Regions from separate parts of the Homo sapiens genome. Here region 1 is linked to region 2. Evidence: fine-mapped expression QTL. A gene starts in region 2. The other region holds a variant in brackets. All regions are shown on one strand. Distances are from middle to middle.

Region 1 (12,113 bases), 350 kb before region 2:
TGGGAATGTAAGTTAGTTCAGCCACTGTGGAAAGCAGTTTGGAGATTTCTCAAAGAGCTAAAAACAGAAATACCATTTCACCCAGCAATCCCATTACTGGGTATATACCCAAAGGAATATAAATCATTCCGCCAAAAAGACACATGCATGCATACGTTCATCGCAGCAGTATTTACAGTAGCAAAGACATGGAATCAATCTAGCTGCCCATGAATGGTAAACTATATAAAGAAACTGTGATACATATACATCATAGAGTACCACTCACCCGCAAAGTGTATGAAATCATGTCCTTTGCAGCAACGTGGATGCAGCTGGAGGCCATTATCCTAAGCAAACTGATGTGGGAACAGCAAACCAAATACTGTATGTTTTCACTTGTAAGTGGGAGCTATACATTGAGTACACATGGACACAAAGAGGGGAATAATAGACACCAGGGCCTACTTGAGAGTGGAGGATGAGAGGAGAGTAAGGATTGAAAAACTACCTATCAGGTATTATGTTACTATCTGGGTGATGAAATCATTTGTATATCAAACCTCAGCAACATGCAATATACCCATCCATGTAACAAACCAGCACATGTACCCCTTGAACCTAAAATAAAAGTTGTAAAGAAAAAAAAAGAGCTAAATGTTATTGTAAGCTACTAAATTTTTGCTTGTTTTCTTCTCATAGCTTCACCCAGTCTATACTAACTGATATTGTTCCTCTGAAGACAAAGGGGGAAATTATAGCTAGTGTTCCTGTAGAGGAAGTTCATATTTAGGGTAGTAGTTTTGATTACGTCTCTTTGAATTGTGAGCAGCCATGAGAACCATTCATAATCTCTTTGGGTTCTTTTCTCTGGAACTGCATCATCCACCACTTGTTCTCTACATTCAACTAAACATTCAGGCTCACACAACTACCATAGCCGCATTTGACACCAGTCCACCTGGAGGGAGGCTTAACTTGGTGGCAGGGCAGTATTAGGTGCTCCCTGTCATTGAGACTCCTTTTAACAGTTAACACAGCTAATTTAGCCTCTGGAGTTACTTTCTATCCAAATGATAGCTCAGGTGAAAGAAGATGAAATCTACATGGGGGTGGGTGTGGAATCTGATTTAAACACCTTATATTCCACAGGAGTTAAAGTCCCTTGGGACAATACCATCATAGGCATAGGCATTAGGTGAAGTTATACATTCATCTTTACAACTAGTTAGGCAACTTTAAACAAATTTTATCTCTCTAGGTCTTTGTTTTCTGTGTGTAGAAAATGGGGAGGTGAAATCAAATGAGTTTTAAGAGAATTCCTGACTCTGATATCTTCAGATTCTGGACTAAGGCCTCTGAATGAAGACAGACACGCAGAATATTAGATTGAAAATAAAACTTGGCCAAAGGCTTATAGTTATGGTAAAATTAAATTTTAATTTGTCAGTATACAAAATCTGGAGGATAATTTTGTTGTATTCAGTTTTTAAGTTCTATAACCGTAAAGGTCTATTAAATATAAGCCAGGTACCAGTTTTTATATTTACGAACCCTGTTTTAATCTACATCTGCTTGTGGGAGTTAATTGACAGCATATTTCTGGTGTTTGATATTTTTCCCTTCTCTTATAATCACTGAGATGTAAATTTTATATTGTAGGCTTTAAACAAAGGAAGAAAGTTACATTTTTGATTATTTTTAAATGACTTTTCATTTATGGATCCTGCTTTTTTTGATATGATACAGTGCTCCAAAAATCACTGTGACAAATGCAAGCAATATCAGAGCCCAGGAAAGACACTTTCTTGGATGAACTTTTTCATTATGCTTCATTGAGGTTGCATATTTAAATTGTAGCAATGCACTGAAGCAAAGAACAGATGGATGTACTCTGGGTCTGAGCAGTAACCCGGATACCTGGTCTACAGGTGTTTTTCATCATCATTGCTATATACATGTACAGTGTCCTAGTATTCAGGTAGATGACATGGAGGCATGAGGATGTTTTCCCCATTTAATACGTTGAAATAGGTAATGATATTTTTAAAAACCATTAAAAATTATATTCCATGGATAGCTACTTCACCAGGGCAGATATTCTTGTGTAATTGTATATTCTGCTGGTGGGTCTGGAGGTCCTAATCCCACCAAAGGCTATCAGAGTTGGATATGATGCAGCTCTTTTGTTCACCTCTCTTAAATCTTGTTATGATAATAAGATTAGTGATATTCCCAGTATATTGAACACATATAAATTGAACCTTGTAGTCAGAAAGTCACTTCTTTGAAATTTCATTGTTATTTAACATTTATTCAGTGAAGCTGGTTCTTCTCTTGTCCTGAAAATGTGTGCAGTCAAATGAATTTTCTAGACAATCTTAAGTAATTCAAAGAGTTGATATCCAAAAAGAAAAGCAGTCCATCCTGCATAAGAGCCATCAATCTTCATTAAAAGATAAAAGTTGATTTAAAATGGAAGATCCTCTTCCTCCTCCAATCCAAACCTGCTATAGTCTGAGAACCCTGTGTCCCCAGAATGAGAGGCAGTCACTGGCTATGGGATGGACTTTCACTCTCATGCCCACTTAGCCTTCAATTCCTTTTCTCTTCACTTGCTACCTTATTTCTGAACTCTCTCATGTTGGTGGTTAGGGAGGAAGGAGAGGACAGAGGCAGGAAATTTTACTTGTCTGGTACTGTGAAGGTGATGGGGCCATACTCTGGACATAGCACACATTAAAGCTGATTCTTTCCTGCATGGGCACATGTGGTTCTTCAGAGATGAGCCCTCCATTGCAATTCCTCTGACACGGGCAAGTGCAATTTGTATTTAGTCTACATAGCCCCAAGGAACCAAATGTAAGGAACCAAAGAATGTAAGGAATGCCCTTTGGTTCTTTCTGTTGATGCTTGCTCATTTTTCTTGCAGGCTCTTTTAGCATCTAAAAATTCCCCATACAGTTATCTCTCCCACATGAGACCACATTTGGTCCAAGAGAAACACTCATACTCACCACTAATACATTGGCACTGATAATTCCCAGAAAACAGCTCCTTTCCTGCCTCGGCTACTTCAGTCAGGTTCTTGCCACTATGTTCCCAGCAGCAGAGGACATTGCCTCCTTTTACAGTTACTTTTTCCTGGCTTTAGGTGAAGGGTAGGGCAATTCTCTGAAAAGCCTTTAAAAAAAAATCCCTTTCTGGGTTTCTGTGGTGCTGGCAGTATTCTGTTTCTTGACTCAAGTGCCAGCTATATTGGTGTGTATTTAGTGATAATTTATTATGCTTTACATTTATATTTTATAGCTTTTCTCTGTGTTAGACCCCAATAATACTCATTCAGAAAAAAAGTAGTCAAAATAATATCATCTGGTGCTAAAAGCAATGCAACAAAGAGCCTCCTTCCTAATCTCCAACTCACAACCTTCATACACTTTTTAAGACGTATCTTCTCTCTGGTTCTTACTTTTTTTTTTTGAATAATTTTGTATCTTGTTTTAGCTTCTCATTTCAGAGAGCGCCTCAGTTGAAATTTTTGTTTTATCACTTGTACATTCATTTTAACTACAATCTAGTGAATACTAATATCCAGTACCATAATAAGCCTTTTACCTACATTATCTCAAGAAATCTTCCTACAAACTCAAAAAGGTTAAGAATTGTTAACCCCATTTTGCAAATGTGGAAACCAAGTCTCTAGGGATGGAGTCATTTGCCCAAGGTTGCAGGACAAATACATGGCTATGCCAAAATTTAGACCCAAAATTCTTTGACTCCATAGCCCATGCTTTTTCCATGTAGACAATTCTCAGTCTCAGAACAAGGATTCTCATGAGCGCAACTTGGGTGCCACCACAAAATATGTAACAACGTTGAAATTGCTGACCATGTCAGATTTCCAAGTCTCTCCCATTTGCTGAAATCGAAGTGAAATATTTGTATGGAGATCTCAAGTCTGGTGACCAAAGCCTGTTTCAAGCCTAAGGGAATTCTATTGTAAGCTTATGGCTCTTGTGATGGGCAAAACTATACCTGTCCTAAACTAAACACAGAATAAAAGATGGACAAAGGAGAAGGGATTGTTCTTAAAAATTTACTCAGCCACTGAGGTTGGTTGATAATTTCATTCTACAAAACAAATTATTAGTGGCCTAAGGACTAAGACAATTTACTTAGAAACTTCAGAAGAGTAAATAATTTAGCTCTCTGTCATGGAGTTGGGAAGCAATTGCCCATTAGGCTAATTTGGGGAAAAAGAACTTGTGTACCAGATGAACCAGATATATGGTCTTTACCTGGGTAGCTCAAGCTGCAGAGAAAATGTTTATTTAGCAGATATTGAATGAATATATCTACAGCAATTAAGTGAGGTTAAGAATTACTTTGGAGATTTTTTTGGTGATAGAACACTGTGGGACCTCACAGTACTGAGGCCCATGAACTGACTGATTCTACCCCTTGTTGATAAAATAAAACTGCTGATGAATCTAATAGTAGTGTCCATGTATTGTAAGCAGAGATACATGTATTACCTTGCTTCAATTTCTTGGTAAATTTAATCCATTGAAATTAAAATTTATCCCAAAAGCGTTTTTTTTCTAAAATATGATTTCCAAATTTCCTCATTATAAACATAATAAAAATTCACTATAGGCAACCAGAAAAATTAAAAGAAACATTTTAACTTGGTAATTCTAAGGTGATAATCATTTAACCTTTTTAATGTTAATTCTTTCTTTGTTACAGTTGAACTCAGGATTTATAAACAATTTTATTGTCTCTTTTTTTCTTCACTTAACTGCATAAGATAAGCCATTTTTGTTGTTATAAAATTAAATCTATATTTTAAACTAATAATTCTTTAATTTTATAAACTAGCCAATCAGTGTTCAGATTTTCTAAATCATATCATACATATTTTCTTTGTTTTGTTTTGTTTTCAACTTTTATTTTAGGTTCAGGGGTATAAGAGCAGGTTTGTTATATAGGTAAACTACATGTCACGGGGGTTTGGAGTACAAATTATTTTGTCACTCGGGTAATAAGTATAATATCTGATAGGTATGTTTTCTGATCCTCTCCCTCCTCCCACCCTCCACCTTCAAGTAGGCCCCAGGGTCAGTTGTTCTTCTCTTAGTGTCCAAGTGTTCTCATTGTTTAGCTCCCACTTATAAGTGAGAACATGTATTTGGTTCTATGTTCTGCATTAGTTTGTTTAGGATAATGACCTCCAGCTCCAACCATGTTGCTGCAACAGATGTGACCTCATTCTTTTTTATGGCTGCATAATATCCTACAGTGTATATGTACCACATTTTCTCTTTTTAATATTATTTTTCCATAAGTTATTGGGGTACAGGTGGTATTGGTTACGTAAGTTCTTCAGTGGTGATTTTTGAGATTATGGTGCACCCATCACCCAAGCAGTTTACACTTTACCATATTTGTAGTCTTTTATCCCTCATCCCCCTCCCACTCTCCCCACCAAGTCCCCAAAGTCCATTGTATCATTCTTATGCCTTTGCATCCTCAAAGCTTAGCTCCCACATATCAGCGAGAATATACAACGTTTGGTTTTCCATTCCTGAGTTACATCACTTGGAATAACAGTCTCCAATCTCATCCAGGTCACTACAAATGCTGTTAATTTATTCCTTTTTATGGCTGTGTAGTATTCCATCCTATAAATACCACAGTTTCTTTATCTACTTGTTGATTGATGGGCATTTGGGTTGGTTCTACAATTTTGCAATTGTGAATTGTGTTGCTATAAATGTACATGTGCAAGTGTCTTTTTGAATAATGACTTCTTTTCCTCTGGGTAGATACCCAGTAGTGGGATTGCTGGATCAAATGGTAGTTCTACTTTTAGTTTTTAAAGGAATCTCCACACTGTTTTCCATAGTGGCTGTGCTAGTTTACATTCCCACCAGCAGTGTAGAAGTGTTCCCTGATCATCGCATCCATGCCAACATCTACTGTTTTTTTATTTTTTGATTATGGCCATTCTTGCAGGAGTAAGGTGGTATTGCATTGTGGTTTTGATTTGCATTTCCCTGATCATTCATGATGTTGAGCATTTTTACATATGTTTGTTGGCCATTTGTGTATCTTCTTTTGAGAATTTTCTATTGATGTCCTTAGCCCTTGGTTTTGGGTACTTGGTCATGAAATCCTTGCCTAAGCCAATGTCTAGAAGGGTTTTTCCAATGTTATCTTC[T/C]ATAATGTTTATAGTTTCAGGTCTTAAGTTTAAGTCCTTAGCAAAACGCACCGGATTCGCGCCCTCCCCGGAGTTCTGGCCAGGAGGCTCTGGCTGGATTCCAGTTGTTACAGAGCTCGCTGGAGACTTCCTTCTCCCTGTGGCATTTTCCCCGCTCCTCTGGCCGCCGAAGGAGTCCTGTGGTGCCGGGCAGGAATGGGCTGCTTGGGGACCCAACGAGCTCCCAGAGCCTTTCCTGCTGCTTCCTCTACCCCTGTGTTTCGCTAGGCTCTCGAGATGGACTCAGTTCCAGGTAAGGTCGGAAACTTCTCCCGCAGACAGACCTTCAGTTTTCCCAGTGGGGGTGTGTGTTTGGGAGAGGAGGATCTCCCTTTCCTACTTCCGCAGTTGGGGGACTCGCTGTATCTGGGTTGTCTCCCGGGTCCTACAGGAGCAGTCCGCTTCCTTTAGAGGGCCTGTGGGTCCTCTCCGGATTCCTGGTTTGTTCTTGCCATTGATACGGAGCTAAAATTAATGATGCGAGCCTCCGCACCCTGCTCTGCCCGTACGAGTCAGAGCTGCAATCTAGTCCTGCCTCCTATCCACCATGATGATCCCTCTCCCAATTTTTTTTTTTTTTTTTTTTTTTTGCAAGGGAGTCTCGCTCTGTCACCCAGGCTGGAGTGCAGTGGCGCGATCTCGGCTCACTGCAACCTCCGCTTCCCGGGTTCAAGCTATTCTCCTGCCTCAGCCTCCAGAGTAGCTGGGACTACAGGCGCCTGCCACCACGCCCAGCTAATTTTTTTGTTTTCAGTAGAGACGGGGTTTCACGCTGTTAGCCGGTATGGTCTCGATCTGCTGACCTCGTGATCTGCCCGCCTGGCCTCCCAAAGTGCTTGGATTACAGGCGTGAGCCACCGCGCCTGGCCCCGCTCCCTATTCTTTATACGTCTGGTAAAATTTGGCTCAGAATCCATCTGGTCCTGAGCTATTTTTATTGGTAGGCTTTTTGTTACTGATTGAATTTTGGAACTCGTTATTGGTTTGTTCAGGGATTCAATTTGTTCCTGGTTCAGTCTTGGGAGGTTGTTATATGTCTAGGAATTATCAGTTTGTTTCAGATTTTCTAGTTTGTCTGCATAGTCATGTTCATAGTAGTCTCTGAGGGTTTGTTTTTATGGTTCTCTTGGGTCAGTGGTAACGTCCCCTTTGTCATTTCCGATTGTGCCTAATTGCATCTTTTCTCCTTTTCTTTTAGTTGTCTAGCTGGCTCTATTAATCATATTCATTTTTTTCAAAGAACCGATTTCTGGATTCATTAATCTTTGTATTTTGTGTGTGTGTGTGTCTCAGTTTTTTTCAGTTCAGCTCTGATTTTGGTTATTTCTTGTCTTCTGCTAGTGTTAGGGTTGGGTTGCTCTAGCTTTAGTTTTTCCAGTTGTGATATTCGGTTGTTAATTTGAGATCTAAGTTTTTGATGTGGGCATTCAGTGCTGTAAACTTTACTCCTAACATTACCTTAGGTGTGTTCCAGAGATTCTGGTATGTTGTATTTTTATTCCCATTAGTTTCAATGAATTTCTTGATTTTTGACTTAATTTCATTATTTACTGAAAAGTCATTCAGAAGCAGGTTGTTTAATGTCCATGTAATTTTATGGCTTTGAGTGATTTCCTTAGCATTGATTTCTATTTTTATTGCCCTGTGGTCTGAGATTGTGGTTGGTATACTGTTGGTTTTTTTGAATTTGCTGAGTATTGTTTTATGTTCGATTGTGTGGTCAGTTTTAGAATATGTGCCACGTGTAGACGAGATGAATATATATTCCGTTGTTGGGTGGGGAGTTCTGTAGATGTTATTAGGCTCATTTGTTCAAATGTTAAATTCAGGTCCTGACTATCTTTGTTAATATTCTGCCTCAGTGTTCTGTCTGATATTGTCAGTCGGGGGTTAAAGTCTCCCAATATTATTGTGTGGGAATATAAGTCTCTTTGTAGTTATCTAAGAACTTGCTTTATTAATCTGGGTGCTCCTGTGTTGGGTGCATATATATTGAGAATAGTTATGTCTTCTTGTTGAATTGAACCCTTTACCATTATATAATGCCTTTCTTTATCTTTTTTTGATCTTTGTTGGCTTACAGTCCTTTTTGTCTGACATTAGGATTGCAACCTCTGCTTTTTTCTGTTTTCCATTTGCTTAGTAGATTTTTCTCCATGCCTTTACTTTGAGCCTATTCATGTCATTGCATGTGAGATGGGTCTTTTGAAGATAGCATACCATCGGGTGTTGCTTCTTGATCTAGCTTGACACTCTGTGCCTTTTAATTGGAGGCATTTAACCCATTTACATTCAAGGTTAGTATCATATTTATGGATTTGATTCCGTTATCATGTTGATAGCTGGTTATTATGCTGGCATGTTTGTGTGGTTGCTTTATAGTGTCACTGGTCTATGTACTTCAGTGTGTCTATGTAGTGGCTGGTAATGGTCTTTGCATATTTAGTGCTCCTTTCTGAACCTCTTTTAAGACAGGTCTGGTAGTAATAAATACTCTCAGCATTTGCTTGTCTGAAAAGGACCTTATTTCTCCTTCACTTAGTTTGGCTGGATGTGAAATTTTTGTTGGAAATTCTTTTTTTAAGAATGCTGAATATAGGCCCCCAGTCTCTTCTGGCTTGTAGGGTTTCTGCTGAAAAGTGTGCTGTTAGCTTGATGGGGTTCCCTTTGTAGGTGACCTGCCCTTTCTCTCTAGCTGCCCTTAACATTTTTTTTCTTTCATATCAACCTTGGAGAATCTGATGATTATGTGTTTGGGAGATAGTCTTCTTGTGTAGTGTCTTGCAGAGGTTCTCTGTATTTCTTGAATTTGAATGTAGTTCTCTCTAGTGAGGTTGGGGAAGTTTTCATGGACGATATCCTGAAATATGTTTCCAAGTTGCTTGCTTTCTTCCTGTCTCTTTCAGGGATGCCAATGAGTCATAGGTTTGGTTTCTTTACAGAATCACACATTTCTTGGAGGGTTTTTTGTTGTTGTTGTTCATTTTAATTCTTCTTTCTTTATTTTTATTTGCCTGGGTCATTTTAGATAGCCAGTCTTTGACCTCCGAGATTCTTTCCTCAGCTTGGTCTATTCTGCTGTTAATATGCACAATTGCATTATGCAATTCTTTTTTTTTTCTTTTTAGACCAGTCCCCCATTATGCAATTCTTGTAGTGTGTTTCTCAGCTCTATCAGATTACTTTGGTTCTTTTTTATAATGGCTATTTCATCTAACGGCTCCTGTATTATGTGATTCTTAGGTTCCTTGGATTGCATTTCAATGTCCTCCTGAATCTCGATGATCTTTGTTCCTGTCTGTATTCTGAATTCTATTTGTATCATTTCAACCATTTCAGCCTCGTTAGGACAGTGTGGGCATTTGGAGGAAAGAAGGCACTCTGGCTTTTTTAATTGCCAGAGTTCTTGTGCTGGTTATTTCTCATCTGTGTGAGCAAGCTGATGTTCCTTTAACTGTGGTGTTGAGTACAGTCAGTTGACTTCCTTTCTGGATGTTTTCAGAGGGCCAAAGCTTTGTTCAGGTGTTTATTTGTAGCTAAATTCTTGTTTTTGATTTCACACGGTGAGTATATTAGCAAAGTATTTTTTGGTATTGATGTTTTGTGCTGTGATCCAGTAGGTGGCACTTAAGTGTAATGGCCGGTAGGTAGGGTCTTGCTCAGTTAACACAGCTCCCCTGTATTTCTTCACAATTGCAGTTGTACTCCCTCTCAGTGCTCTGAAAGTGTGGGTTTATCTCCCACTTGAGTGCTGGCTGCATGTCTCAACTTGGCACTCCTGGGCTGCACACCACAGCTCTAGGGTGATTTCTGGCTTTATGTTCCTTTCCCAGCTTTGAGGCAGCAGGGGAAGGGACTTCAGCGGTGGTTGTGGCAGAGGGTCTTTGATTTGTCTCTTTGGGCTCCAGCCCAGAAACATGCAGAGCTGCTATCAATCAGTTTAATTAGCCTGGGGTGGGGCAGCTGAACGGTGGGTCCACACTAATGGGGCCCCACCTGGTGATGAGCAGGGGCCTTGGGTGGGACCTGGGGGAGACAAACTGGCCTCTTCTCCTTAACGCAACTGCCATTCGCTGCAAGTGTGATTAAAGCACTCAGCGTCTTTGCTTCTTTCCTGGTCTGAAGGTAGCAAGGGCAGCACCACTACAGTGGCAGTGGCAAGGGGGTTTTTGGTTGCTTCTGGGAGCTCCACCTCAGAGAAATTCGAAGCTGCTGCTCCCAGGAATGTTCGGCCATGGGGTGGGGCAGCTGCTCTGCTAGCCTGAGCCGGGCTCTGCTTGTTAAAGAGCAGGAGGTTTGTCCACAGCTCACAGGGATGAGAGACTGGGCTCCTCTCCACTTGGTGTGCTGGAAGCTCGGGTGAAGCCCTTAGATTCTTTGTTTTTTCTCCAGACTGAGGGCAGCAGAGGCAGAATCATTGCTGTGGCAGTGGCAGGGGGGCTTTTGGTTGCTTCTGGGAGCCCCTCACCCGGGAAGAACAGCCCCTACCAGTGGGTATGCCTAACCATGGGTGGGTCAGCTGTTCTGCAGTCCCAAGCCGGGGGCCCTGCCTGGTGAAGAGTTTTGGGGGCAGTGGGGAGGGAGGGTGTCACAAGGAAGAGAGACTGGATTCCTTTTTGTCTGGTGGCTGCAGTATGTTGCATTTGCCAGCGTAGCTATTGTGCCTTCTGTTCCTTCCCCAACCTGTGGGAGGTTAGGGTGTTATTACTGTAGCTGCAGAGGCAGAGGGGTTGTGGGTTGTCTCTGGGATTTCCTCCCACCTCTGACTAAAGGGTTCAGGAAGGGGCAGGGTAGTTTTGCTAGAGTCCCAGGTTGGGTGGCCCTACCCAGTGATGAGAAGCTGAGAGAGAAGCCCACGTGGAGAACAATCCAGTCACTTTTCTGTGGGAGGGCTGCACTGTTCTGGGGAACTATGCCACTTCCTAATCACCGTGTACTCTCCAGACCAGAAGGCAATAGCAGCAGGATCTGGAAGACGCAAAAACTGTGGCCAGCCTCTCCCTCTGCAAGCTTCCGTCTCAGGGAAGTGTAGATCTGTACTAGCCTGAGAGCCCTGGTTGTGGTGAGTACAGAGTGGCTGGAGTCCCAGATAGATGGGTCCCACTCAGTGAGGAGAAGTGGGATCAGGGACCCATGTAAAAAACAATCTGGCCACTTTACCTTGGGTCAGTTGCGCTGTGTGGGGGATCCATGCCACTCCCTAATCACCACTTGCTCTCCAGAGCCTGAAGGCTATAGCAGCAGAGACTGCAAGGCAGCAAAAACTGGTGGCCGGACTCTCCTTCTTCACACTGCATCCTAGGGAAGTGCCGAGTTGCTACCAGCCTGAGAGCCCTGGTTGGGGTTGGCTGGAGTCCCAGGCTGTGGGGTCCCACCCAGTGAGAAGAAGCAGGACACATATAAAAAACAGTTTGGCCGAATATCCTTGATGAACGTTGATGTAAAAATCCTCAACAAAATACTTGCAAAACAAATCCAGCGGCACATCAATGGTGTATATACAGGGAGCTAATTCTCCATGATAAAGTAGGCTTCATCCCTGGGAAGCAAAGTTGGTTCAACATAGGCAAATCAATAAATGTGATTCATCACATAAACAGAACAAAAGACAAAAACCACATGATAATCTAAATAGAGGCAGAAAAGGCTTTTGATAAAATTGAACATCTCTCCATGTCAAAAGCCCTCAATAAACTAGACAATGAAGGAACATACTTCAAAATAAGAGCCATCTATGAGAAAACCACAGCCAACATAATATTGAATAGGCAAAATCTGGAAGTATTCTGCTTGAAAACAGGCACAAGATAACAATGTCCTGTCTCACCACTCCTATTCAGCATGGTATTGGAACTCCTGGTCAGAGCAATCA
Region 2 (12,113 bases):
GAGATTTGGGGGACCTCCTTAAGAAGGAACATTCTAAGCAATCATTTTCTTGTAAATAATTTTCCAGGAGGCAAAACAAGGTTTTGGCCTGTCCTGTACATAATAGATAAATTATGTTTTGACTAGAAGTTTTTTTTTATTCATCAACTGGTTCTACCTCCGGAGTTATGACTTTTAAATATTATCCACGCACTGAATGTTCTCAATATTCAAAATAAAATTTAATGAGATACAACGTGTAAGTTTCTGGTTTGTAAGATGTAGAGCAGTTATTCTCATTGTTTCTGAGAGAACAGTCTTATTGCTCATGCCTTGTGTATTCCCATTTCACTCATTCTTTTGGATTTATATTCCTTTTAGTCTGTGTTCTTTTCTCCTGTCAAAGAAACCAGGCAAAATAAAAACAAGCAGTGACTAATTTCATTTTAATATAATTCTTACACCAAAAAGCATGAGAAACATTTAAATGAGGAGAGAAAAAAAATCAACCTTGCTTTGACAACATAGGAAAGTGAATTTGAAAGTACATGGGGCTATGAAATCAGTAGTCATATTTTATTGTTCTCAGGTTCTCAAATCATTTTATTTCTCAGACGTAGGACTTAAAGAAAAACTTATGAAAGCAAGTGGTAAGTTGTCTTGCTCTCTAGCCTGTTGACCTCATGAAAACTGTGAATACAAAATTCAAATTGCAGAGTGTCCCAAATATTTGGATTCTATAACTATTAAGATGCCTTCCAACCTGAAATTCTGTGATTCTACAGTGGAACCACTTGAATTTGATTTGAGAAAGGAGATATCTTTACACCTTGTATATGATGTATTAAGTTGATGGTAAGTAGTTGTTGTTTGACAGGGGGACATGTTGACCATGAGTGTGTCTGGAGCTATATTTGAAAAAACGAGTTTGTGCTGGGATTCCAAGTATATCTGTTTTGGAATCAGTAAGTAGTGTGACTGTAGTTATATTAATTTACATTGATTGTAGATTTATACCACAGACTGTCCTCCTAAAACATAGCCTGAGGAGGAAAAACACTTAGCTAGAATTAATAGCTTGGGAAATTGTCTGTGGTTTTTGGCACTTAAGGGGTAAAAAAGGCAAGGTGGAAAAGAAATCTCCTCTCATTCCTCCACCTCCATCACTTCTCACATCCAAACAATGACAAAGTCATGCTAATGCTTCCTAAACATTCCATAAATCTGGCTTTCCTTTTTAGTCGTCATCTCTACAATTACTGTTCCAGTTCAGTCTCTTATCCACCTCTCCCCTGGACTCTGCACTGTCTATATAAGTTCTCATTTCTTTTTCTTTGCTTATGTTACTTTCTTTGCCTAGAATATTTCCTCCTTTCTAATTACCTCATCCTGTGTCTGATTAATTCCTTTAATCTTTTAAGTCTCGATTCAGGACATTCCTCTGAGACTTAGTGTCAGTTCTTTTGCAAAAGACTCTCTGTGTCCTTTAGGAAGTTTGGGGGCCCCTTTTCCGTTCAATATTATGGGTATAGCATGCTCACTGCACTCACTACGTTGCATTCGACCCTTCTGGAGAAGAGGGGATCTATCTTAGTTATCTCTGTGTTCTCTGAACATAACAAAGTACTTGCTCCATAATAGTTGCTCCATAAAATATTTCTAGAGGGCCTGAAGCTTGCTCTGAATTTCCACTCTATAGTATCACTAGAGTCCGCTGTTCTTCCACAAATATTTCTTGTCTAAGTTGCATTATCATTCATCTCTACACTGTTATCTAGCCATATCATCTCTCTACTTTCATTACCTTTTCATAATTTTCAAGGAACATTCAGGGTGAATTTAGAACTCTGGTTTACCCCTTATAATACCCGTGGATCTGGCCTTTGCCTATTTCCCTTTCCAGCCTCCTCATTCTTCACTCTTCCACATGCATCTCTGACACAAATAAATAGAACTACTTGTGCTTTCTCATAAGAAACATGTGTTTCAAGCTTTTATGACTGCACATACAATTTCTCTTTTGCCTAAAACACCTTCCTTCCAATGCCTCCTTCCTTCATCTAAATCCTGTCCCTTTCTTGAATTATCAACTTTCTTGGGAAAGACTTCCCAGAGCCACTTCCACTCACATCACCTCCCCAAATCTTAGCTACTGCTCTCTTGTGTATTCTTATTGCACCCTGTGCTTTTTCTGTGAAATGCCTATTACACTTCTATTACTTCACCAACCTTGTCATTTTCTGTTTCTATTTCTTCTATGTAAGTATAAGCTCCTCAAGAGAAGAGACTGTGTCTGCTTGGATCTGTGTTTTTGGCACTCAGTACAGTATTTACCATATACTATAAGCTCAGTTGTAAAGGAGAGAACAGGAACAGAGAAAAAGAGAAGGAGAAGAAGAGAGAGGAAATGGCAATAGGCATGTACTAATTTCCAGATATTTGAAATCATTCCAAATAGTGAATTTTTTAAAAATAAACAAGGATCTCAGTAGCTGACTGAATACTGTTCTCTCTGTTTCTGTAATGTTTTATAAAATAAAAATTAGTTTTATAATCAAAATATGTTTGATCGTCACAAATGAGTAAAAAAATTTTGATATTTCTATCGTTAAAGCTCCTAGAAGTTCATGAAGCTAGGAAGTAAGAAAACCAGAATGTCAATCCATCTGATTTACACAAATTGGGATTATCTGATAGCACAAATAGGACTGGCTATGTAATTTGTGGGGCCCAGTGAAAAATGAAAATGTGAGTGCTTTGTTCAAAATTATTAAGAATTTTAAGACAGCAACAGCATAGCGTTAACAAGCTTAGAAACCTCCTAAGTGCAGGGCTCTGTGCAATGGCAGAAGTCATACACTAGTGCAGTGGCTTTGACATGCCTTTCCATAGTTCTAAGGTGCTCTGCTGTTGAGTGCTAAGAATGCCGCTGGCAGCACATTTGCCAAAAGCAAACATTTTCTTGTTGGATTAGGCAACATCTGCCTTGTTGGACTAAAGAGCGAACGTATTAACAGTTAAGGACCAAGCACAATGTGGGATAAATGTTTTGATTATCTCATGAATCCTCACAATAACCTTGCTCATTCACTATCCCTTCTGTCTAAGCCACCTTTCTTTCAAAATCTTCTTCACCCAGGTGAGTCCTATACCTCTCTTAAAGCATCAACTACTCTGGGAAAGACTTCTTCAAGCCCATTCTTCTGCCTGGTCTAAATCATTGCCCTCCTATATATTTCACCCTCTTCTGCTCTAGTGGGTCACTCATGTTGATTTTACTCTGTTTATGTAAGAGTAAATTGAGGCTAGGAGAGTAACATAGCTAGGAAATAAATATTGTTGGCTTCTAGCTCCTTTCACGACTAACTCAGCCTTCTTTTATGCTACTCTAACCTGCTGGAGGTCACTTGTCCACTTAGTGTTCAGCATTAGGCATCCTTGCCATCTTACCTTTTATGCCCCTAGAAGAAACACACTGAAGGCTGATGGAATGATAGCCTTCATCTAGGTAGAAAGTGACACACCATCACACATATGTATCTGACCTGGGTTTTGTGATCTGGTGAAGGTATATGACCCAGTGCATCTGAGCGTAAGTAGGCATCATTATCTCTCCAGAGTTGGGAGCAAAAAGATGAGCTTAGAACACTCATCTATCTCTTTTATCTAAGAGTAATACTTACCAAGCTTTCACATGAATCTGAAAAGGAAGGCCAATATTCCACACTTTCTGGGAAGCTAGAAGACAATATTAGCATTACTTACAAGACTTGATTTGCTGAAACGCTAAGTGCTCTTTTTTTCTTTACTTTTTTAAAGTGACAAATAATTGTACATATTTGTGGGGTTCATAAGGATGCTTTCATACGTTAATGTCATATTGCAACTGTTTCAATGGCAAAATAGGCATTTTACTATGATATAATTTTTAAAAAGCTTGACTACAATTTAAATGTAAAAAATACATATTAAGATGTAATGTATGGGTCTCTACCTTTAAAAATTAGGATTAATATAGAGAGGATCGGGGTAGAGATTAGTACTTGGCATGTAACAGAAGATATGTGAAAGGCAAAACAGCTTCTTGAAATGTGTTAACTGGGGAGCCATCATCACGTGAACATTTTTCATAGTTTAATTGGCTTAATTAATTGAAAATGAGGTAATTGATTTTTAGAAGGTGTTTAAAAAGTATGGTTAAGGATGGAAATTTTATAAAATGAATTCATAAATCTTTGATAATCCTTAAACAGAATAAGGAAGTGTTGGTTTCAGTGAACTTTCCATTAATCCTGTAAGCCCACATGAGGTTAAAACAATGAGACCGTTGTTTGCAACCAGATGTTAATTATCCATAAACGGTAGTGTGGTTCATAGTAATACAGAATCTAATGTGGAATTAATTTAAAAAATCAAAAAAATCAATTATCTGAGTATATTGGGAGGAAACCTCAATGAAACGAAGGAGATTCTACATGGGTAGTCCAAGGAATCTCACTAGTTGTTAAATAGCCTGTCTCTAGAGGTTTTTCAGCACTTATCTCCATTGTGACTAGAGGAGGAGCATTTATATCTTAACTACAAAGATATGTGTGCAGCTGAGACTGACACATCTAATAAAGGACTGCTTCGCTGCATCTGCCAAGGTCTCTTGGCAAGGGCTTTGGATCCAAATACTAAGATTTCCTAATATTTCCTGAATGGGTACTCTTTCAGAAGCATAGCAATATTATCGCCTATCCTTCCAATTCAACCACTTAGCTTCTCCTTCAGTATTAGTGTAATGGGGGTCATACTTTGAAAAATTTAACTATGCATTCTTCTTTAGCTTTCCAAGCAAATAACATTTATTATAGTTGTCCCAAGAATTTATGAAACCTGGAGAAGATTAAAGTATGTTATTGCAAATGGAATGATGTAATAGCTTCTGACATGGAAAATAAGATTTTTCAAATTTCTTGTTACATTTCAGTGTACCAAGAACACTGGTGGATGAAGACAAAGGAAAGATGTTACTAATCCAGCCAAAAATGTGTGTCCTTATTTTTCCTTCCTTGGGCTCCTGCTCAAAGACCTAAAAAAGAGTAAATAAATGAGAGTAAATGAGGCCAGAATTGGATTTTTATGCCCACTTCTTACTTGAAGCTCTGAGCTTTGCAAGCTATTCCTTACATGATCTTATGAGATAAATGTTATTCTTATTTTTACAACTGAGGCAAGTGGAGATGAGTAATTTATTCAAGATTACACAGATGGCACAGAACCTGGATTTGAACCCAGGACAGTTTGATTAACCACTCTTAATCGCAATACCATAGTGCTTCTCTGTGCTGCAGTGGGGAACACAGAGATGCTAACATTTTTAAAACTTACTTAAAATTATAAAAAAAGAAAGTCCATAAATTTTCACACTTTTATATTTATGAAATAAGTGAATTTCTGATCATATTTTTTTTTAGCTGGTGTGATACCAGGGTATAGCATTTGCTATTCTGGTTTAGTAATGTATTAAAATCTATTAAAATTGTGTGTAGTAGAATCAAAAATTTTAAAATGTAACTTGGACTTCTGTGTATCATGCTAAAAAACAATTTGAAACATACTTTTGCTCAGTTGCATCTCAGCTAAAAGTATTTTTTTCTTATGTGACTCTCTTGAATAGTTTTGTAATTATTGATGATTGTTAATGATGATAACATTTCTGGTCTTGATTTATCAAGTACCATAAACATTCACAATAGATTTGTAATTTCCTCAGAGTTTCAGGAATTAAATTAATTGCCACTATAAAAATGATTTTTGAAGCTCTTCTAGGAAGGGTACTTTGTTTATATTCTAGCTATTTCCTGAGGAATGGTGTAAATATTTCATAAATGTTTGGGAACCAGACTTTTTACGCCCAGTCTCACTATCCAACACATAAATTATCTCTTTCATCTAGATATTATTTTTTACTTTTAGGTACTTAGCTCTTTATTTACATGTTTTAAAGTGTGTTATTTCGCAGTAGTTTATTTGAACTAAATGAGATATTTCTGACATCAACTTTTAAAACTTGATGGTTTCTCTTGGATTTTTTTTTTTCGTAGACTTGCTGTCTCTAGTTCAAGGCTTGCTTTTGCTTGTAAACCTATAATGTTACAATTAAATGATGTAGCAGTTCAAGTAATGTTAACTACCCTGGATTAAAATGCTCTCAGGCAATTAAACGGCAGTTGTAAATCATTGGAATTTGGAAAAATAATCAGTGTCGTATGATAGTTGCATGACACATGATGGATCTGATTTTTAATATATGCCATCTTGATTAGAAAATGAAGATGAGCCTTCTGTAAAATGTCATGCATAAGATAGAATTAAGTAGAGGAAGGAAAAAAAGAACAGAGAATATGTGAATTTTTATTTTCCAGAATAGTTAGGGGAGGCAAACTTTAACTCAGAAAAGTGATAGAACTGCAACAATTCCATTAAATCAGTTATACTCACTGTGAAACACAAGTCACAGTTTTCGTTTTACTGTGGTTAAATGAAATAAACATTGTATTTGATAAAAGCAAGTAAAAGTCATATACACAACTTGAAATGACTCAATTAAATACTCCAGCATTGCCTTCCCCGTGCTTAGCTGGTATTGGTGGGGCTTCCTCTTACCTTTTTAGCTGTGTCTCTCTCCATATAGATATTTTTATTATCACCAGTTATTCGCTATTTTGTTCAAGATTGATTTGGTTTACTTCTATATATCTGTGATTATATACAAATAAGGTCATAACAAACACTAGTGTTTTTATTTTTCAGGAAAATCTCCAAGAGTTGGTGAATCATGCTGTTGCCAATAATAGGCATGTGACATAACTGAACATTTCATCATCTTCAGTAAATAATCAAGATGGTAAGAATTATACAGGATGTAGCATAGATTGTTAAATTTGTGAAAGTAAGTTGTAGGCTATGTTAGTTAGAATTAGGTTTGCCTGCTACTGACAGAAAACTCCAAATAACAACGTCTTAAACAATATGGATGTCTTCTTCTTCAAATAGAATCTAATGTCACCTTTGCAGAGATGACATGCTGGGTCTGTGATCACCAGGGATCCAAATGCCTTCGATCTTGGTGCTGGCTCACAATCACCAAGTGGCTTCCACCTCACAGTCTGCTGTGGTTGATTAAACTCCAGCATCTTATTGATGTTCTAGCTGGCAGAAACGAAAAAGAACCCAACAAGGGCAAGGTTGAATTACAAAGAAAGGAGAAAATATCCATTGGAGGACTACTATCAACCTCTGCCACAATTTCTACATTTTCTCAACGTATGAAATTTTAAAGTATACTACTAAATTTTAAAAATTATTCGTATTCATATTTTCAATGGTAAAACTATCGAGCATTCTGTTGTTTGTGCCAATTGTTTTACCAAAAATTTTAGATACAAGAAGAGACATTTATAACACAAGGTGTTTCTAACTGGAAAGTAAGCCCTGGAAAAATTTAGGAAACAAGAGAGATGTGAAACGTGCTTTATGTTATTGTGATTTTGAAATCTATTTTTTGGAAAAACTATGCTTATAAATAATTGAAACTTTAAGAGAGGTTGAAGACAGTGGAGCACAATTAAATTTTGTGGTTAGAAGGTTGCATTTCTAAAAAAAAATGTTTACTATTGAGAGGGCATTACAGTGCTATGAGGGCAGGAATTTTCGTTCATTTTCTTCACTTATATTTTTTGCAACCAGAGTAGTGTGTCGAACACAGTAGGGGCTAGATAAATGTTGAATTAATGATTGATCAATTGGTGGATTAAATTAGAGTAAAAGATGAAGAAACATTTCTTTTTATTTATTTATTTATTTTTATTATACTTTAAGTTTTAGGGTACATGTGCGTAACATGCAGGTTAGTTACATATGTATACATGTGCCATGTTGGGTGAAGAAACATTTCAACACATGAATTACAAGCAGATTTTTACAAAAGAGCACACATTTAATACTAAATTTGAAAATTCACCAAACATAGTAATAACATCAGTTTTTCCTTAGCTTATTCGATAATACGAGAAAACTGTGTAGGGAAAGAACAACTTGAGTACATATAAAACCCACTGAAGATGTCAAAATGTATCCAAATTTAAAAGAGGCTCTTAAATTTTATCAAGCTAAGAGAAGTCTGGGACTAAGCAAGAATTTATTTGTAGCAAGTCACAAAATAAAAATAAATTATGTGGCCTAGACTGCAACAGTCATAAAATTGTGGGAATTTTAATGAAGTTCTTTCTGAATTTAAAGAAAACCACAGAGGTTTCCTTATCATTATGCATGCCTTTTGCATTTATGAGTGATAATGTTTCATGAGTAAGTAAAAAAGTTGTAAAAATCCTAAATACTGTATGTCTTTATATGCTATCACTCAGAAATATGCAAAAAGATAAACACTTCCTCACAATATGTAAGCAGAACAAAGGCATTAGAAGTAAGCTATGCAAGTTGTAAAACATGGGTTGACATGTACTTAGTCTTATTTTATTGGTATAATTGAGACACATCTGGAGATTACTGAGTCTTGAAATATGCAGATGACTGATGAATTAAGTGTTTGGCTGACAGATTTCAAATTTGAAATTATAATTTCTTTAAAATGCTTATTTAAAAAAAGTCTTCTGTTGTGATTAGAATTCTTTTTCAAGGATGGAAATGTAAATATATTATGGATCCTTTTCCTTGGCCTTCAACAGAGAGCCATGATTTCATTTTTTTGTCAAAGAGAGACAATAAATATTTTAAATATATTTGGGAAAGAGAGAAACTATATGTCACAAACCAATCTCTATCTAAATCTTTCAAAGTACACATGCCCTGTCTTTAAAACAGGCAATTCATAATGAATTTTTCTTACTTCAAGGAATGAACTCATATCAAGTAACATGAAGATGTTCATTGAGAGCAGGGTTCAGTCTGTTTATTCACTGTATTCTCTGAACCTGGAACAGGTTCCTGGCACATAACAGATACTTAATACATATTTGGTATACAGGTGATTGAGTGAATAAATTAATAAATGAATGAACAACTAATCATATGCATATGTAATCCTAGAATTCCAATTTTACTAAAATTCTGCAAATTATGACTTCATCTATTATGTCAACATAATTTTTTCATTTTATGTATTTAAGGTGGCATTCATCATAACACTCAGAGCTGGCATTTAATGTTTTGAGTTGGCCAGTCATTACAGCAGGAACAAATGATTCACTTCCATTCTACTTTATCCTTAAGAGTACTTTAAGAATACTATAGAGAAAAATAAAATTAGTGCCTGCCATTAATGGATATTGGGAAATAATTGGTAACCAAACTGATGAACTCAGAAGGGCTCAGTGGCTCTGGGGTGAGACTTGCCACATGGCGGATGCTTCATTAATCATACCTCTAATAACTTATTGTTGCAATTTCATATATTCCCATAATTCACATTTCTGATTTTAGCTGGTCACTTCTAATATATATTGCTTTGGTTATAAGTTGATGCTATAATAACACTGTTGCTGAGAAGGACATTAGCATGATTTTATTAAAACCTTCCAGTATTATTAATTAATAATCTATTTGAAAGATATAAGCCAGAAATTTCTCATAAAGCTTTTGTTTTGTTTAAAGTCCTTGCTTAGAGTAACCACTATTACCAGTTCCAAGCAATCACCACTATCTCATAGACAAACTTGAATTTTAAGTATTACAGTTCAGCCCATTAGGCATCTTGGGGATGAGAATATAATCATTTTAAATTGGTTGGAGAATTAAAGTTACAGAATAAGACTGATGGCCAGTTTCTAGAAAGTAGCATTCCAGGATATCTAAAGGAAACCTAATGAAATTGTGGTGCAGCCCTCTGCTGAAATTATTCTCCTGTCATTATCAATGGATGCTGTGCCAATTTCCCTCACTTCTAGTCATTTATAAAGTCTCTGTTAATTTTATAGTATTGCACTTCCACTCTTCACTCAAGATTTATGTTCTTCTTGTCCCTTTCTCTCTGGCAGCTTTTACTTTTACCCTTCACTTTTGGCACTTCTGTTTTTTAGTAGTCAGTATTTTTTGGTACTCAGTTTCTGGCTCCCTTTACATGTGTTTTGGGTTTGGAGTGTTCCTTTCTTCTTCCGAACTCCTTCTCCTCCTAGGACAGTGTGGGTCTCACCCTGAAAAGGAGAGGCTGTGTATCGTTCCCATCTCATAACATTTTTCAAATATACATCTTCTCAAGTCACACTCCTATACACAATCCTTTCTACCTCCTCAGGATGAAGTTGAAATTCCTTAATATTTTTTCTCTCTCTTTCTCTCTCTCTCTCTTTCTCTCTTTTTGAGATGGAGTGTCGTTCTGTTGCCTGTTGCCAGGCTGGAGTGCAGTGGTGTAATCTTGGTTCACTGCAATCTCTGCCTCCCAGGTTCAAGCAGTTCTCCTGCCTCAGCCTCCCGAGTAGCTGGGACTACAGGTGCACACCACCATGCACAGCTAATTTTTGTATTTTTAGTAGAGACGGGGTTTCACCATGTGGGCCAGGATGGTCTCTATCTCTTGACCTTGTGATCCGCCAGCCTTGGCCACCCAAAGTGTTAGGATTACAGGTGTGAGCCACAGCGCCCGGCCTAATATTTTCTATAAAGCTTTTATGATAGGTTAAAGCTTACCTCTCTCAGACTACATCTCATCATTTAATATCTAACAATGTTGAAATATCTTTAGTTCTCCAAACATACTCACTTTTCTCTCCTTTCACATTCTTCTCCTTGCGCTGAGAATGCTCTCCTTCCTGATGGATAATGCTGTTTACCCTCAGGACTTAGTTTATGTAACTTGTCCCTCAGCAAACCATCACTGCTGCATTATGGCTGGTAGGGGGTCCAGCTACCTTCTCTCTGTTGCCTGTACTTATTACTATCAGGGAGCTTATCACTTATATTTTAACCATCTAGTTACATAAAGGAAGTAAATAAATAATAAATCCTTGCTGAATTTAAATTTCTTGAGCACAAGACCTGTGAATCTTGCCTATTTTATGTATAGAAAAATGCTGAGCACAAATTAAGCAGCCAATAATTTTTTTCATAAATAAATGAAAAGGTAGGTATTTTGATTTATCTAGAATTGTATTCCCAAAACTCCAAATTATTAATATTTTCTTTCTGATTTCCTTAGATTTCTATGGATTGTTTTCCAAATTCTTGGATTTAAATTATGAAATAAAAGACAATTCATTTTAAATGATTTTAAATCATAATTAAAAACAAAATTGTCTTGACCATCTCCTGAAAATGTTGGAATAGAGGTCACTCATCATCATTAGTTCCTGAATAGTTTATAATTGTAGATTGATATTTTTGTTCCAATATTTAAGAAATGTTTCAAATTGTCAACTGACTTGGGTCTTTCTTCAGTATTTCATTTGTAAATATCTAGTTTTACTAGAGAAAGAATATAGGTAGCACATTTTTGACACTTTGGAATTTATCTAGTTTTTTTGCAGATTAATATTATATAATAAATAAAACATTATATCATACATAAAATATAATATATATAACATACTATATGTTTTATATATATTATTTATTTTATATATAATACATATTTTATAAACTATATATAAAACTATACTATTTATATATAGACTTTATTATTATATATATAGTTTTTTAAGGACTATGTGCACTGGTTAACTCTGTTTAAATGCTTACAAAATTTGATATATATAAAATTCTGAATTTCATTATTCTAATTTTTAATATATATTCTGTATAATTGTTTAAAGGACAGAAAATATGTATAAAATTGAATAATTCTATGTCAAATTATTGCTAAATACCAAGAATTTTGCTTTATGAATTTTGATATATTTTATGAGTTTTACCTCATATTATCTTAATGACCCTTTTTTTACTCATGTTAAAAAAAGCTACTTTCAATTCTACTTTCTTCAAATAATATGGCTATTGTTATATTTTTCTTTATTTTACCTAATACATTGTGGCCAATTGCTTTGTGTTTACCTTTTCATGCTATTTAGTTTTAATTATATCTCTTTAAGTTGAGATTACTTGAGTTGGACTGCTATGAAATGTCTCCTTCAACTCCC

What was found.
Region 1: its variant is fine-mapped to the expression of LINC02468 in tibial artery (GTEx, PIP above 0.99).

What each region holds. Positions count from the first base shown.
Region 1 is chr12:19,769,110-19,781,222 of GRCh38, forward strand. No RefSeq gene overlaps it. Among named protein-coding and RNA genes, the nearest start is that of LINC02398, 240 kb to the right of the region's middle. The variant T/C (reference allele first, on the strand shown) is at 6,203.
Region 2 is chr12:20,120,783-20,132,895 of GRCh38, forward strand. LINC02468 (long intergenic non-protein coding RNA 2468) reads right to left here and starts at 7,119. Exons shown (of 4, transcript NR_146523.1): 1 at 7,034-7,119; 2 at 4,957-5,053; 3 at 3,663-3,717; 4 at 198-376.